Linked DNA regions of Homo sapiens: regions 2, 3 and 4 are each reported to be linked to region 1. Evidence: microRNA targets listed by miRTarBase, many of them from high-throughput screens and not tested one by one. Region 1 holds a microRNA gene; each other region holds the end of a gene's coding sequence.

Region 1 (3,012 bases):
TCCTGGAACACATACCCTTCCACATCCTGCAGCTCTGCTGCCCTGCACATATGCCATGCCGTCATCCTGCTGCAGCTCTGGCTGGGCCCGCAGCCTTTCCCCAAGAGCACCCAACACAGCAAGAAAGCCCACTGAAGTCCACCCCTTTCCCTCAGGACCTGAGTCTACCCTCAGGACCTGGGGTTGGTTGGACTCTGCCCTTCCAAATAAACCTTGCTAAGTCCAACTCTGTGCAACCTACATGGAGGTGGGGGCAGCCGATGCCTGGTCCAGGCTGTGAGGGACACGTATGGAGCAGATAAAGAATTCACTCAAGCAGTCCTAAGAGGCACTTTATTGCATAGGATTTGGGGACTGTGGCTCTCTACCCTTCCACTGTGTTGCAGGGAGCTCAGAGGATGGAGGGGAGTGTGAGTGGGGTGGGAGGAGAGGGAGAGAGCACAGGCAGGCACTTTTTGTGGGGGCAAGAGGGCTCTAGGGAGGGAGTAAGAAGCAGTGGGGGACAGGCTGGCACCAGCCTACACTTTCCCAGCACCAAGAGGCCAGCCCTGGGCGGCAGTGACTTGAGTGTGTTGGGTGGGGCGCCAGCCCAAGCAGCAGGGGGCAGCCTTCACACGTTCGCTGGGCTGTAGCACAGCAGGTGTAGCTGCAGGTTTTGGTCCCAGTGGCGCAGTAGCAGGAAGAGCCCTCGGGCTGCGGCCTTGAGGGCGGCCAGGTCAAGGCCGTCAGGCAAGTGCTGGGCCCGCAGCCAGCAATCAGCCTTGGCCGCTGTCAGTTCCCACTCGTCGAAGGCAGCGGCGCATCGGTGCTCCAGCCAGGCGAGTGCTACGGCAGTGGCCCAGGTCCGGCCCCGCAGGTCGGTGCCGCCCAGCCCTTCCGCCCCCTCGGAGGCCTCGGTGTCTGAGCCCCGCCCACTGTCCACCTGGCCTGGCCCCTCAGAGCCCGAGCTGGGGGACGGGCTGCAGGAGGCCGTGGCACTGTCACCCTGGCCAACACCAGGGCCCAGAAGTGCCCAGGGCAATGAGGCCGAGGTGGGGCTGAGGCTGGCGCGGTGCACGGCAAAGGGCGAGGCACGGCAGAGGCGCTCCTGCGAGATGCGCACAGCGGCGCAGAAGGGCGCGTCCAGGCGGAAGGAGCCTGGTGCCTCCTGCAGCCGCACCTGAGGAGAGAGGAGGTGGGGGGAGAAGCGAGCTGAAACAGCGCCCGGCCCCGGCGGCACCACCCTCCACCTCCCGAGTCCTCACCAAGGGCAGGTAGTCATGGTCGCTGCCTTCACTGTTGTTGGCCTGGCCCGGGTCAGGGCTACAGAGTTTGTGACGGCGGCCCATGCTGAGCCGACAGGGAGGACGGGGAGGTGGGCGGCGAGGACCTTCCGTGGGAGTGGCAGGGTCCCCCAAAGCACGCTTGGAGTTGCCATTTTGGTCCGAGTCCCAGGCGCCTGCTGGAGAGCCTCTCTGAAGTCCTGCAGTGGGGATCATCAGTGCCAGGGGGCGGTCTCTAAGCCCAAGTGCCCCTACCCTTTCCCTACCTTTGGGTGTTACCTTTAGAGTAGACAACAGTGGGCAGAGGAGCTGCATCTAGATGGCTGTGAGAGGCAGGAGGGGTTCCTGGGGGCTCAGCGGGCTCTGCAGGGGCACATGGGACAGGAGTCAGGTTTGTCCAGGAGAGTGGCCAGTGAGGTGAGAGCTGCACCTGAGAGGTCACCAGAAGAGGCCCCTACCTGAGCTGCACACCTGCAGGGCCCCAGGCAGGACCTCCCTAGTAGTAGCATCCACAGCTACAGGGCAAGTGAAGCAGGAGGGGGCAGAGCTGACCTTACTTGTCTGAAGGGCTCGAAGCCAGCACCTCCGGGCATGGCCTGTGGAACCAAGGAGCAGTCTGTGGAGCCCCCACCACCCACCCTCTACAGAGGGCTCATAGAAAAAATTGCAGTGTTCTCCCCAGCTTCTCCCTCTATCGACTTTAACAGAGTAGATTGCCTTGCTAGGCCCAGAACCAGCTCAGACTCCCCAACTTTGACAAGAAGTGATCAGGCTGAATCTTCAACCCATAGCAGAGCAAGAGCCCCCTGGCTGCCCAGAAATTCAGCACTCTGGACAACACCCAGAGGAAGCATTAGCTGGCACATTTTCCTCCACCTGCTTCTGCACTAATAAAACTTGGAAATGTTCTCTCTCTTCATGATCCAATGTGGTAGCCACTAGTCACATTTGACTATTGAGTACTTCAGCTGTGGTTAGTGCAACTGAGGAAATGAACTTTAAGTATTTTCCTAAATGACAAAGATTTGTTTTTACGTTGTGGGTGCTGTGAATCATGACAGGATCACGTTGCCCTCTGTGCTGGCTGCTAGGAAGCTTGTCAGTTCTGGATCTGATCCTTGCAAGAGTATATAACCTCACAGCATGCACCTTTAATATAACCTCATTCTCAGTTTCCTTTTATTTTTACTTTTTCCCATTGTCCCGCTTAATTTTTTATCTTGTCTGTGATGAGCCTCAAATCCTTTGTGATCAAAGCGAGGTATAGAGAGTGATCAAACACACAGACCTCTACCTTTGCTGTTTTTAGCCCATGCCTTTGGGTCCTGACTGGACCCATGAGCAACTCACCCCGGTCAGCTGTGGTCTCTGCCCCTCCTCGGAGGGCCAGCTGCTCATTGTCCCGGACCACAGAGGCTGCTGTCAGCCGATGGAGTGCTTGGTCCCAAGCAGCTTCTCTTACAGGAGGTGAGGGAGGCTGTGAGCCATCTCCAGGTCCCCACAGTGTCTCCAGCCCAACACCCACCTCCCAGCACATGGGCTGCTCCCCACACAGGCCCCGGATCACCACATGGCAGCGTGGAGCCTGGGGAGGCACTGCTGGAGGGGCCAACTCCCCACTAGGAGGCACAGCCGTGAATAAGAAGGGTGGTTCCATCAGCATGTCCCAGTCCATAGGGGCTGGGGAGAGCAGGTTTCCTGGGGAGGCAAGACAGCAGGGGCATGGGCAGAGTGGTCCTCTGGGCTTTAC
Region 2 (3,000 bases), not on the chromosome of region 1:
GTATAAATCTGGAGGCTCAGTTCAATGCTGAGGTTTTATGTGAGCACATTGTTTCTTCTATGTGATGGTACTTAGTATGGGAATGAAGTTACACAAAACAACAGCAATTTGTTCAGCTTGAGACCTAATTCATAACTTAAAACCATAGTGATAAAAATTCTTTCCCCCTGTTTTAGAGAGGAACCTTAACCCCAAAGCAGCCTGCCTTAAGAGAAGGGAAGAAGAAAAAGTTTCTGCCGTATCGGCAGAGCCGCCAACCACACTGCCAGGAACCCATCCTGGGCTTAGTGAAACTACCAACCCTATGGGTCATATGTAAACATCAGCCAGGTAAGTACGGGTTTGAAAAGAAACAGCAAGGAAATAACCTTAAGATTCATCTTAAACTGGGTTAGAATCTTTGAACAGAATTCTCTAGTGAGCAGTGGCCATTGTAAAGGTCACATGTAATTTGAAATATAACAGTTTGTCTTTCTGTTACATTATCAGACTTAGAGAGCCAGTGTCATTTTATAGCAAATTGCCATTTTCTTCAAAGTGTGGCAGTATCTTGTGACTTTGGTTCTTCTGTTCGGAGTCATCATGTGTACTCTCTTACATGAGTATCTTCCTGATCCAAGAAGAAATAGTACAATGACTCAACCGTCAGAAAACGCTCTTGTTACCACTCATGTTCTTCATTTCTTTATTCAGAAATGCTGACTATATCATCAACCAGTTTTCTGCCAATTATCTAGCTTTTTGTCATGAAGCCTTTATACATGAAAAAGTTATCACTTGTATTTGGATCAATAATGCAAGTTTATGATATGATGCTTCTTCCCCACTTGCAAGCACATCAGTTAACACCCTCTAGAATCTATTAATGAATGGGAAGTTATTATATATGTTAGAGCCAGAATGCCCTTCTCTCTGGTGGAATTTTACTTGTTCAAAGACTGTTCTTTATATCTTCCTTTTCATGGACTAAACATAATTCAGTTCCTTGTGATTTTTTTTTTTTTTCCTCAAGACAGAGTCTCGCTCTGTTGCCCAGGCTGGAGTGCAGTGGCACGATCTCAGCTAACTGCAGTCTCTGCTTCCCAGGTTCCAGCAATTCTCCTGCCTCAGCCTCCCGAGTAGACTAGCTGGGATTACAGGTGTGCACCACCATGCCCGGCTAATTTTTGTATTTTTAGTAGAGATGGGATTTCACGATGTTGGCCAGGCTGGTCTCGAACTCCTAACCTCAGGTGATCCACCCGCCTCAGCCTCCCAAAGTGCTAGGATTACAGGCATGAGCCACCTCGCCCAGCTGGTAACTTCATTTTTATAATCTGCTTTCAGCAGTATGTAGTTTTTTTCCCAATTTTATCAACAGATTAAAGGTAGTAAGTAAAGGCAGATGAGTGCGGGGTGTGGAACAGAAAAAAATATCAAGTGCAGTTTCATTTGGTCAGTTTCGTGGCTGTCTCATTTTGAACTGAAAGTCTGGAATTTGATAGATTGTTTGATAGATAAACTACAAATATTAGTAACTCACCTTTTCCTGAGGGTTTTAGTTCCTACCGCCACTACATATATAGGGTCAAATGAGACTACATATAGGGTCAAATGAGACTACATATAGGGTCAAACCAGACCACAAAGAAGATTTCATTTAGGGTAAAAGAAAAGAAGAGTTAAGGCAGTTATTTCGTAAGTCAGTTATAACTGTAACATTAGCACACTGGAGAAAACCTCAAACTACCTCCCCCACAAAAAGTATCCAGCAATCTAACAGATTGTACATGTCAGGGACTTTAGGCAAGAGCTAGTTTACAGATCCTCTAAAACCTAGATCATTGTTTCATACTCTGTAGAAAATATAGACTACTATGAAACAGTAAGTATTTTTGCTTCAAAAATAAACTTTGAAGTTTTTTTGTTTGTTCTGGGATTTTTTTGTTGTTGTTGTTGTTTGTTTGTTTGTTTTGAGATGGAGTTTGACTCTGTCGCCTGAGCTGGAGTGCAATGGTGTGATCATCTCGGCTCACTCCAACTCCCGCCTCCTGGGTTTGAGCAATTCTTCCACCTCAGCCTCCTGAGTAGCTGGGATTACAGACATACACCACCACGCCCAGCTAATTTTTTTGTATTTTTAGTAGAGACAGCGTTTCGCCAGGCTGCCCAGCCTGGTCTCAAACTCCTGACCTCAAGCGATCCGACCACCTCGGCTTCCCCAAGTGCTGGCGTTACAGGCGTGAGCCGCTGAGCCCGGCCAAAAAATTAACTTTGAAGTTTTAAAATAAAACCATGCCACTATTTCTCAGTGCAAAAGAGACTTTCTAAACTGATAGATTATTTCAAAGAAGAGTGATGGGAGAGGTAACTTATGCTCAGGTCCCAGATAACCACCAAGCTGTGAAAAAGAGCACTAGGCATTCTGCCCTAACACTTCTCTTGGAGCCTGTGTCTTATTTTTCTTGTCTCGCTCTAGTTAGTTCTACCCATTTCCTCTTGTTTTCTTCTCAGTCTCTCTTACTCGTTCAACTTTGTCTTCTTATTCTCATCTCGTTTCCTTCTGTTTACTTCCTGTGCTTTTACTACTTCTCTATTTCATACTGCTCTCATAGCTCTACCTTTATCTCTTTATAATGTGGAAATTTTCCCACTTAGGTTAAAATTAAACTTTGGGCATTCCCACCTATCAAAAAAGGATCAAGAATTCTTTTAAGTTTAAAAAGGCATCAAGATATGAGACATGTAGTGAATGCACTTTGTTCCATAGATTGTATAGGCTAGTGTTTGTCATCTTAGAATATGTGTTAAGGTTGCTAATTTCATAAAGATAGTTATCTGGTTTCATAAATTGGATAGCAGATTAAAAGTAGCAAGAGACAGGGCAGCAGGAACAATGCTACTAGAATCAAAATGGCTAAGACATGACCACAGAATGACTGGTTATAAACGTACAAAAATTTGCCATCCTGTAATGTAGGCCAAGTAGCTTTGAATATCTTAGTTTTCCGTCCCTAAGAG
Region 3 (5,490 bases), not on the chromosome of region 1:
CCAGATGATATTGTGATAGAATGCTACAGTGAAATGCTTCTTAATGACTCTCCTGTCCTGCCTAAAGGACAAAGACCTATGAGTGACTTCAACTTGACGTGATGTTTCAGTGATCTTTTACTTCAGCTCTAAGTCAGAATCAATGCCACAGGAAAAGAAAAGCTTCTTACATCTCAGACATCTGCTTGCTGAGCAAACACAAACAAGAACACATGTATTGTTTCCCAGGAGCTGGCAAACTAGATCTCAAGTCACACAGTTACAAAGAGAGCTCTCATTCAGATGCCGGGCATATAAGCTCAGCTACCCAGAAAGTTCAGCTTTAATGAAGACTGTAGTTTTAGAATGAAAGCCTGAGCAGGAAGGATTTCTGCCCTGGGAATTCTCAATGCTCTGCCTGAGTCACACTGGAGGATGGAGATAGGCTCCTCATTCCAGCGGCCAGCAGCTGCCACAGTCACAAGACCACCCTCCAAACAGCAAGGGTCTTACGATGACAACGGGGACTCTGAAGAGAAGCCAGTCAAAGACACAGGGCTTTGGACAAGATCAAGGGTCTTCACCAGGAAAGCTTAATGCAGAAGCCCCCTCCCTCCAAGTCCCCTCAGCGTGAGCCTTGAGCCTTGACACAGCTGTTTCCACCTGCAAGGGCTGGAGAGGCCAAGTTCACGCAGATGTTCAGCAATGTTCAAGCAAATGATGTGTAAATAGATGAAGTGGTCTTAGAGATGGTCTAAGAGGAGGGAACAGGCTCAGAGAGGTGAGGTGATTTGCCCACGATCCAATGTGAATTAGAGACCATTAGGACACGAACTCAGGTATATTTCCACTCTTACGGTGAATCATAAGGTTCCCAGTAAGTGTAAAATGCTGCAGAGAGGTTAAAAGAATATTGTAACCAACAGCTTTCTGCTTTCATTCTGCTCTGGAATCATTTGTGTAAACTCACAGCAGGAAAAGATAACAGTTTTCTTCAAGTCTGTTAAACTCACTTCTAACATAAAAACATTAAAGAAACTTGACACCATTTTTTGAGTCAGTTAATCCTAATTTGACTGGAATCAGTTACTTGTAAGTGTCTTCAAATTGCTTATGAGACACGGAGTGCTACAGGAGAGATGTGGGTGCTTCTCCCCATTGGTTTTTAACATATTATTCCTGCAATGGAATTGTCCAGATTGATGCAATTTATAGCCTCAATTTGATTCTAAAATATATTCAAATACTCTTTAAAAATTCAGCCTTGTTTTAGCCCAAATAGAACCTTACTAGCAAGAGGGGGATTCATATACTCATCAGAAATGAATGACTTTGGGAAGAAAGGCAAGGACACCTGGAGGAAGGAAAAAAGATGACCTATCTATAAACTGCCACTCCCTCATTTATCAGGCAAGTTTGCAGCTCTGTGAATTCAATGCCTCTGTGCTCTCATTCAGGGACAAACAAGAATTTTCCTGTAAGACAGCCACAGTCACATTCTCATTTCCATGCCTAAGAGCCTGAAGCTTGAACAAAGGGCTTCAGTTAGTTTCATGTGAGCCAAAATGGAATGTGAGTGCCATTCAGAGCCACACACTAAAAAGATTTCAGCTGGGACACTGGCTCCCACAGTCCTGGGGGAGCAAATTCCGGTTGTGTGGCAACAAAGGCTATGCTGCCAGCCCTGCCTGTCCTCCACAGGGGCCACCAGGACTGCCGTGCAGACCAGGCTCCACCCTCCCCCACACCGGTTTGTGTGACAACAGGGCTGTCTTTTCTCTTCCTGAATTTCTGAATGGAGCTGGTACATGGGCCAGCCACTATTTTGTCAGAACAGGTTAAGGGGTGTGGCCTCAGGCATATGAAAGGAGCCTCTCGCTCTTCTGGGGTGGTGATTCAGTCCTAGGAAGTTATTGCTTGGTTTACCTATTCTCATAAAAAGTCTTGATAAATGAAGGTAGTAGTAGCAGAAATATGACTATGAATGTTCTAGATCACAGCTGTAGTTGGGTGAAGGGAAAAGTAACAGAGGAGAGGGGCTAACTTCCAAACTGAGAGGGTAAAGTGCCAGTCTGTGCTAAAAGAACGTGAAAAGGAAACCTATTAGAGAAATAATACACTGGGGGGAAAGTCATAATGATAGAGGCTGGTGAGTGCCAGAAATTATACCAAAGCGAAGTTGAGACCACAGAAATCTCAGTCTCTGAGATAAGGGCTGCTTTTGATGTCATTCGGATGATTTGGTGATTGTCAGAAAACAACTTCTTCAGGTTACAGACCTGGACCCATGCCCACGGGTCCCGTCACAGTCACTTGGACCCGTGCCCAAACCACACCCACCTGTGGCCCTGAGGGTTGGCACTCAGGCGCCCAGGTGGCTCCTTTGATCCCTGAAACATCCATGCAGACCCACTACTTATATTCCAGTCTGTCCTGGAGTCAAAGGAGATGAAGGAGGAAAAATATCTTTTTAAAGTATCCAGGCAATTTTACTCATAGTTCTGTTTAGTTCCAGATAGCAACAGCTGATTGTTCAAAGTGCAGGGTTTTTGGATATTCAAGTACCACAGGATCGGAGAAAAGGAGTACTTGAAACCTAGAGTTGCGTTTTCACTTGAGAAGACACACTTTGGAAACACCTATCCAACAGACTACAAATATAGGCTATTAAATTAAAAATCTGGTTTCAAAATAATACCCACTTAGGTTGGAAATATCTTTCTCCAAACTCAGATCCAACTTTTGAATTGTTTGGTATCAAAGGCAAAGTTAGAGGGACTTGGGTTTAAAAACTAAAATTACAAGTGAGTGCTTAAAAAAAAAACAACTCAAAACATCTTTTTATCAAATAAGGGACACACACACACAAAAGGCAAACGATGATATCTACATGCTTAGACTGGGAGAGCAGCTCCCAGGCTCCCCTGGAGGGATGTTCTCTCAAACCTCAGTAAACTGAGTTTGTCATTGAACTTTGAACCTGGTAGTGAGCTCAGCAATCTACCTGGTCCAAGTCCCCCATTTTAGAGGTGAAGAAATTGAAGTCCACAGCGACTTTGTCCAGGGTGAAAAGCAGAGCCAGGGCACAGCCCAGATGCTCAGCCCACCCAGAGCCCTTCTGAGACATCACACTGTGGTCACACGACGGCAGCTCCATAGCCGGCCTTGCTGCTCTGGAGACCGTGGGAGCTAGAGGACACCCCTGATTATGAATTTCAATAAAACGAGCTGCAAAGATGTTTCCAATTTAAGGGCGCTGTTGAACAGCATTTCCAAAATTTGCTTGGTGATGAGAATCATCTGGGGCACTTGTGAAAAATTAAAATCCCCAGGCTCCTTCCCAGACCCAGTGAATCAGCCTCTCCGAGGGGAGGGACCTGGGAGGCTGAATTTTTAACAAGTGCCTCACGTAACTCTCAGCAGCAGCAAAGCGTAGGGAAATGGTCTCAGGAGACAGGGCGAAAACTTGGCTTGTGACTCAAAGGAATTTCCTTTGCCGTTTAAGAAGCCACACTCTGGCCTGGGAAGCCTGGGTTCTCAGGCTCCCAAGCGGAGCTGTGTCTTCAGCATTGGCCTGGAAGGGTGAGCTCTTTTTAAGGTCTATGTAAGGACACATACAACCACCACAAAATGACATACATCCTTCACTGTTCTCAGGGAAAAGCCTTTTGGTGGCAAAGCAAAATCGCTATTCAGACACATTTTTAATAGGGAAACTAGATGTACTTGGCTTAAAAGCAACCAGATGCTGAAACTGGACAGAGGGCAAGAACTCTGTCACTTGTCACCATGCCTAACAATGCAATGGAGAAAACCAGTAACTAAGCACAAAAATAGCCTGGAGCTCCCAGGAAGAGCTGCCTACTCCGAGACAGGTGTGCATGGTGGGTGCCCCCTGCTGATGGTGTGAGGTCAGATCCAGGTCACTGAGGGAGATGGGAGACCTGAAACAGGGGGTGAGGGGACGCAGCTTCCAGAGGAGGGCTGCTGGAGCGTGCCAGAGTCCGGAGGCCTCACTCCAGGTCGGCCTCCACCTGCTCCGTGTCAGAGCACTGCAACTTGTTACGCTCCCATTGGCAAATGGCGTTGGCGTACTCCACCACCAGCTTATCCATCCATGTCAGGGGCTCGGGGAACAGCACAGAGCCCTCAAAGAAGCCCAAGTGGCCCCCATGCAGAGGCAGCACAAACATGACGTTCTCTCGTTTCTCTGCAGGGGAAACGCAGCTGAGTGAGTTACTGTTCTCTAGTTTGCTCCAGGACAGGAGGTGCAGAGGTGAGCTGGCTAGGGTAGCCTGGCTGTCCCCGCAGGGTCACCTAAGTGGGCATCCAACCTCTACTCACTCTGCCTTGTTCACCAAAGAGGGGGCAGGCAAGACAGTGGCATCTAGCAGGTTTTAGAGTACAGCTTGGCTTTGGAGCTGAATGGGCACCAGCTGAAGAAAGCCTTAGAACTCTAAAGGGTTCTCAAACTCGGCTGCATATTAGAATCAGTTGTGGAGTTCTTAAAGCTCCTTAACCCCAGGCTGGCCCAGATGAATTAAATCAGAATCTCTGGGGGTGGGAGGTGGGAGAGGAGTGAGGGAAGGGAATTCCCAAGTGTTGGTATTGCTCAAGCTCCCCAGGTGATTCAATGTGTTTCCTAACTTTGTGCATCAAAATCACTTAGGATATCTTATTAAAATGCGGATTTTGATTTAATAAGCCTGAAGTGGGAGCTGAGATTCTGCATTTTTAAAAAGTTCCCAGGTGATGCCCATGGTAGTGGTGGGGGCCAGGCTCTGAGTAGCGATTCATGGCATTTACAGTATTTTTACTAGAGAACGAGGAGAATTCAATGGAGTCAATGAGTTTTCACTACAGACATTTATCTTCAAGATCCTTAAAGCTGCACGTTGTGTTAAAAGATGCCCAAGCTCTCAACGCCACATGCTAAGTGGCCATCCTGAGAAATAATAACCTAGAGCTTGACTTTATTTTTTATTTTTTTGGGACAGAGTCTCAGCTCACTGCAACCTCCACTCTCGGGTTCAAGCGATTCTCATGCCTCAGCCTCTCCAGTAGCATGTACCACCACGCCTGGCTAATTTTTGTATTTTTAGTAGAGATGGGGTTTCACCATGTTGGCCAGGCTGATCTCAAACTCCTGACCTCAAGTGATCTGCCTACCTCGGCCTCCCAAAGTGCTGGGATTTATAGGCATGAGCCACCACACTTGGCCCAGTTGCTTCTATTTGTATGTTTCAAGCAGATGGAGAGGCTGTCACAAGAGATAGCAGAACCGGATTTTTTGTTTTGCTTTTCAAGTCAAATTTTATTTTATTTTTTACTATTTATTTATTTTTAGAGACAGAATCTTGCTCTGTTGCCCAGGCTGGAGTGCAGTGGCACAATCATAGCTTGCTGCAGCCTCGAACTTCTGGACTCAAGTGATCTTCCTGCCTCAGCCTCCTGAGTAGCTAGGACTACAGGTATGTGCCACCATGCCCAGCTAATTCTTTTTTTTTTTTT
Region 4 (3,305 bases), not on the chromosome of region 1:
CGTAGCTCAAGCTGTTTTCTTTCTGAGTGTGATCCCGTTCCCTGGGCTTCCCTGATGCCATCATGGAGCCTCTTAGGGCTGGTCCCTCAGGTGGGTAAGGGCTGGGCCTGTCCTGCTGTGAAGGCTCCTTCCTCACTGAACCCTCCCGTCCCCCAGGTAACGTGAACATTATTCAGCCTAACTATCCTGCGGCAGCCCGTGACTTCCTGCAGACTTTCCGCCGTGGGCTGCTGGGTTCCGTGATGCTGGACCTCGACGTCCTGCGGGGCCACCCCCCGGCTGAGACTTTGCCCTGAACTTGTCCGGGTAGGGAGGGCCGGAGGCATGTGGCCTCCCAGACCTCCTGACCTGGGTGGTTGAGGCTCAAGACAGCTCACCCGGTCCAGAAGCTCCATGCTGGTCACTAGGGTGCTGTGCTCTCTGGCGCCCCACAGCCTGGCCAGCTCCAGGGACCCCAGTTGCAGGGCCCAAGCAGGTGGGAGTGGACACCAGGCTTCCCAGTGGACGTCCCTGAGCAGCTCCGCATGCTTGGTTCTCCCGGAGCTTCCTGCTCAGGCCTCTTGAGAAATGGATGCTGTCTCAGAAGGAGTTAAAGCTATAACCTGTAACCTTTAAAATCTCCAGTTAAAGGGCCTGTTTCTTACTGGCCTGTGAGGTGCACCGTAGTGCCTTGGGCCTGTGTGTTAAAGCTGCTCTCACCAGTGAAACCTAAGAAATGAGCAGGTTGGCAGCTAGGGTTTGTGTTGGAGGCTTTCGGTCCAGTGTCTTGCAGTCCTACAACAAGTGAGAGGCTTGCTGCCATCAGAGAGGTTTATTTCACACTTACAGGCACACACAGACACAGACCAGAGACTCCCAGCAGCAGAGCCCAAGCACTGGCTTCGCCCCTCAGTGCCCTGGGGCATGTTCAGGGCAGGGTTGAGGGGGACGCCCTGCACATGGCTTTGCTGTGCAATGACTGGAAGGCCGCCCGGCATGGGCAGTAGAGACCCCTGGCCTCTGAGCACCTTCTAGCTCACGGGTAGTGGGATTCTGCATTAGTGGGGCTGAGAGATGTGGGGGCCCCTCCAGCCCCATTATAGTGCACCTGAAGGGGTCCACAGCCTGTGTCCTAGAAGAGGGAAGAGGAAGGAAGGTGGGTGGGGCTGGTAGTATGGACTAAGGTGCTGCAGGACCTGGGGCCAGGGACATCCTGTGCAGAAGCTCCGGCTGCCTCTTTGCGGTGGTGGCCTGACCGTCCCACAGCAGCCTCCACCAGGGCCCTGGTGCTCAGTGGCCCCTCTTTGCTGGCTGGCTGCCTCTGCTGCCCCATACCCCACACACTCATCAGCCTGAAGTTAGCCCCTGAGTGCCACCTGCATCGTGCCATAACCCTGACCGCCTGGGGCAGGAAGTATTCAGGTTGGCTGTGTCAGATGCTAATGTGCTGAATCAACAGTCATTGCAGATCACGAAGTGTCCATCATAACTGGAACATTCCATCAGCTTGCAGTGCTGTGGTGTGTGAGGGTCTGGTGCAGCTCAGCCCATTTTCCAGGTGGGCATCTGCAAAGTTGAGGGGGCTCCGGTGGGTCTCTCTGCTGTGAGGAGACTCAGACCACCCCCTGCCTCCTGGGGGAAATGTCAGAAGGGCTTCTCTGCCTATGAGGATCTGGGGCAGGGCTTGGCCTTGGCCTGCTGGTCTTGGAGGCGTTGAGCTTGGTCTGGAAGGGGTGGAGGAGCGTCTGGGCTCACTGGGCCAGGGGCATTGCTGGCAGTGTGGACGGGAGGCTGCAGGGCGCTGCCTCCTGTGGCTTAGTGCCCTGGAGCTAGAGAGCAGTGCTTGGTTGAGTCCTGCCAACAGCTTCCAGATCCTCACCCAGGCCAGAACCCAGGCCAGCTGGGGAAGGCAGAGGCTGGCAGGGCCCGTGGTGGGTGCTGGTCTTGACTTTGGTGTCCACTGAGTCCCGAGGCTCAGGCCCAGGAGGGATGCAGTCCGGCTGAGGGCGAGGCTGTCCCCAGGACATGGAGAGGGTGAGATCCCAAGGCCACGGCGGGGGGCAGGGAGAACCCCTCCTACCCTGGATGAGTGGGTGACTGGAGAGCTAGAGAACGTGGCAGACCCAAGACCTCTCAGTGCTGAGCCCATGGAGGATGCCCCAGGCTGGCGGGACTGGGAAGCAGAGGGCTGGTCTTAACACAGGTGTGTCCAGTGCTGGAGGCAAGTCCTTGTCGTGACTGTCCAGCGCCACTCCATGTCTCTCCTGTCCTTGGATGTTGGGGGGCTCAGCCTCTTGCATGGGTGTCCTGCTGGGCGCTGGGCCCCGCCACTGGCCCCCTGCTTGCTTTGGGGTCTGAGTTAGCTCCTGGCTCCACTGAGCAGGCCGTCAGCTGCCAGCCCACCACGCGGATACCCAGGCCCTGTTCCGAGGCCTGGAACAGCTGCTTCCGAAGAAGGGGCTGCCTTCAGGGAAATGCGTGCACCGTGCAGCCTGTGCTGTGCCCAGGGAGGCCTCTTCAGCGGGATTGGCAGTTGCTGTGCCCTGAGAACAGGCAGAACTGTGTGATCCCTGAATGTGAACCTGAAGTTCAAAGGACTTGGAAAGCTCTGGAATGTGTTGGTTTTTCCCCCCCAAAATGGGTCCTAAGGAGGGTAAAGTGACTTGTTTCAAGTTGTTGGAGCAAAGTGGGTCTCTCACGGATCTCGGCCTGAGGGTGTGGGGGAGAAGGCCTGGACAGCCCCTCAGGGCAGGGTGTGTTTTCCCACCAGCCGCAGAGAGCCAGGATGGACGTTCCTCGGACGGACGGTTTTCCTGCTTGGGAATGTTCCTGGGCTGTGAGATCCACTCTTCTGGGCAGGTGGTTAGCACCTAACGTTTTTCCCTCACTTCCCCCCAAATTCTTAAGTCCTTTGGTCCATTTCACTGCTTCTTTTGGGGAGGGTCAGATTCCTCAGGGGCTCAGTGGCAGAACCAGCCTGATGTCGCCTCCCTGCCCGTGAGTCACCACGGCCCCTGGGCAGGCGAGGGGAGCCGGGGTGGCTTGGGTTCCTGGCCTTGGCACCTCCCTTTGGGCGGCGATGGAGCGTGGCTGGGCGGTTGGTACAGGAGCCACAGGCAGCTGCCTTTTTGGCTGAGGGGACCCTAACATCCTGGAGTGGGTGGGGCAGGGCCCATGGTCTCCTCTAGGTGGGAGGTGGCAGGCTGAGGCGGCGTGGGCAGGACGGTGGATGGCGGGTCCACAGGGACAGCCAGCAGCTCCTGCACCCAGTGGGGCTCCAAGACCGTGGGCAAGGGAGGAAGGGGGAGCCCAGGCCGGAGGATCCT

Evidence for each region. The annotated mature microRNA hsa-miR-1224-3p reads CCCCACCUCCUCUCUCCUCAG and lies in region 1 at 1,160-1,180, opposite strand. An mRNA with a match to its seed (bases 2 to 7 or 8) in the 3' UTR can be bound and repressed. Matches are read on the target gene's strand: a 7mer-m8 pairs with bases 2 to 8, a 7mer-A1 pairs with bases 2 to 7 and ends in A, and an 8mer does both.
Region 2: the mRNA of TCF12 is a reported target of hsa-miR-1224-3p. The part of its 3' UTR that is shown has no 7-base or 8-base seed match.
Region 3: the mRNA of ABHD2 is a reported target of hsa-miR-1224-3p. Seed matches in the 3' UTR shown: 7mer-m8 at 2,315-2,321.
Region 4: miRTarBase lists MTG1 as a target of hsa-miR-1224-3p. Seed matches in the 3' UTR shown: 8mer at 474-481, 7mer-m8 at 1,134-1,140 and 7mer-m8 at 1,536-1,542.

The regions. Positions count from the first base shown.
Region 1 is chr3:184,239,637-184,242,648 of GRCh38, reverse strand. MIR1224 (microRNA 1224) reads right to left here and starts at 1,244; the gene lies at 1,160-1,244. VWA5B2 (von Willebrand factor A domain containing 5B2) reads right to left here. Exons shown (of 20, transcript NM_001390846.1): 16 at 2,613-2,960; 17 at 1,721-1,858; 18 at 1,542-1,625; 19 at 1,245-1,462; 20 at 320-1,159. The coding sequence ends at 611. It overlaps ALG3 (ALG3 alpha-1,3- mannosyltransferase), which reads left to right. Exons shown (of 9, transcript NM_005787.6): 9 at 1-348. The coding sequence ends at 135. RefSeq lists a silencer at 434-728.
Region 2 is chr15:57,282,269-57,285,268 of GRCh38, forward strand. It overlaps TCF12 (transcription factor 12), which reads left to right. Exons shown (of 21, transcript NM_207037.2): 20 at 177-330. The coding sequence ends at 319. Among named protein-coding and RNA genes, the nearest start is that of SNORD13D, 5.1 kb to the left of the region's middle. RefSeq lists an enhancer at 2,511-2,570.
Region 3 is chr15:89,193,926-89,199,415 of GRCh38, reverse strand. It overlaps ABHD2 (abhydrolase domain containing 2, acylglycerol lipase), which reads right to left. Exons shown (of 11, transcript NM_152924.5): 11 at 1-4,189. The coding sequence ends at 3,993. It also overlaps the pseudogene LOC124903574. Among named protein-coding and RNA genes, the nearest start is that of RLBP1, 25 kb to the left of the region's middle. RefSeq lists a silencer at 1,484-1,778 and enhancers at 3,544-4,044, 4,045-4,545.
Region 4 is chr10:133,419,870-133,423,174 of GRCh38, forward strand. It overlaps MTG1 (mitochondrial ribosome associated GTPase 1), which reads left to right. Exons shown (of 11, transcript NM_138384.4): 11 at 157-2,651. The coding sequence ends at 296. SPRN (shadow of prion protein) reads right to left here. Exons shown (of 2, transcript NM_001391974.1): 2 at 797-3,305. Among named protein-coding and RNA genes, the nearest start is that of SPRN, 3.1 kb to the right of the region's middle. RefSeq lists an enhancer at 3,134-3,305.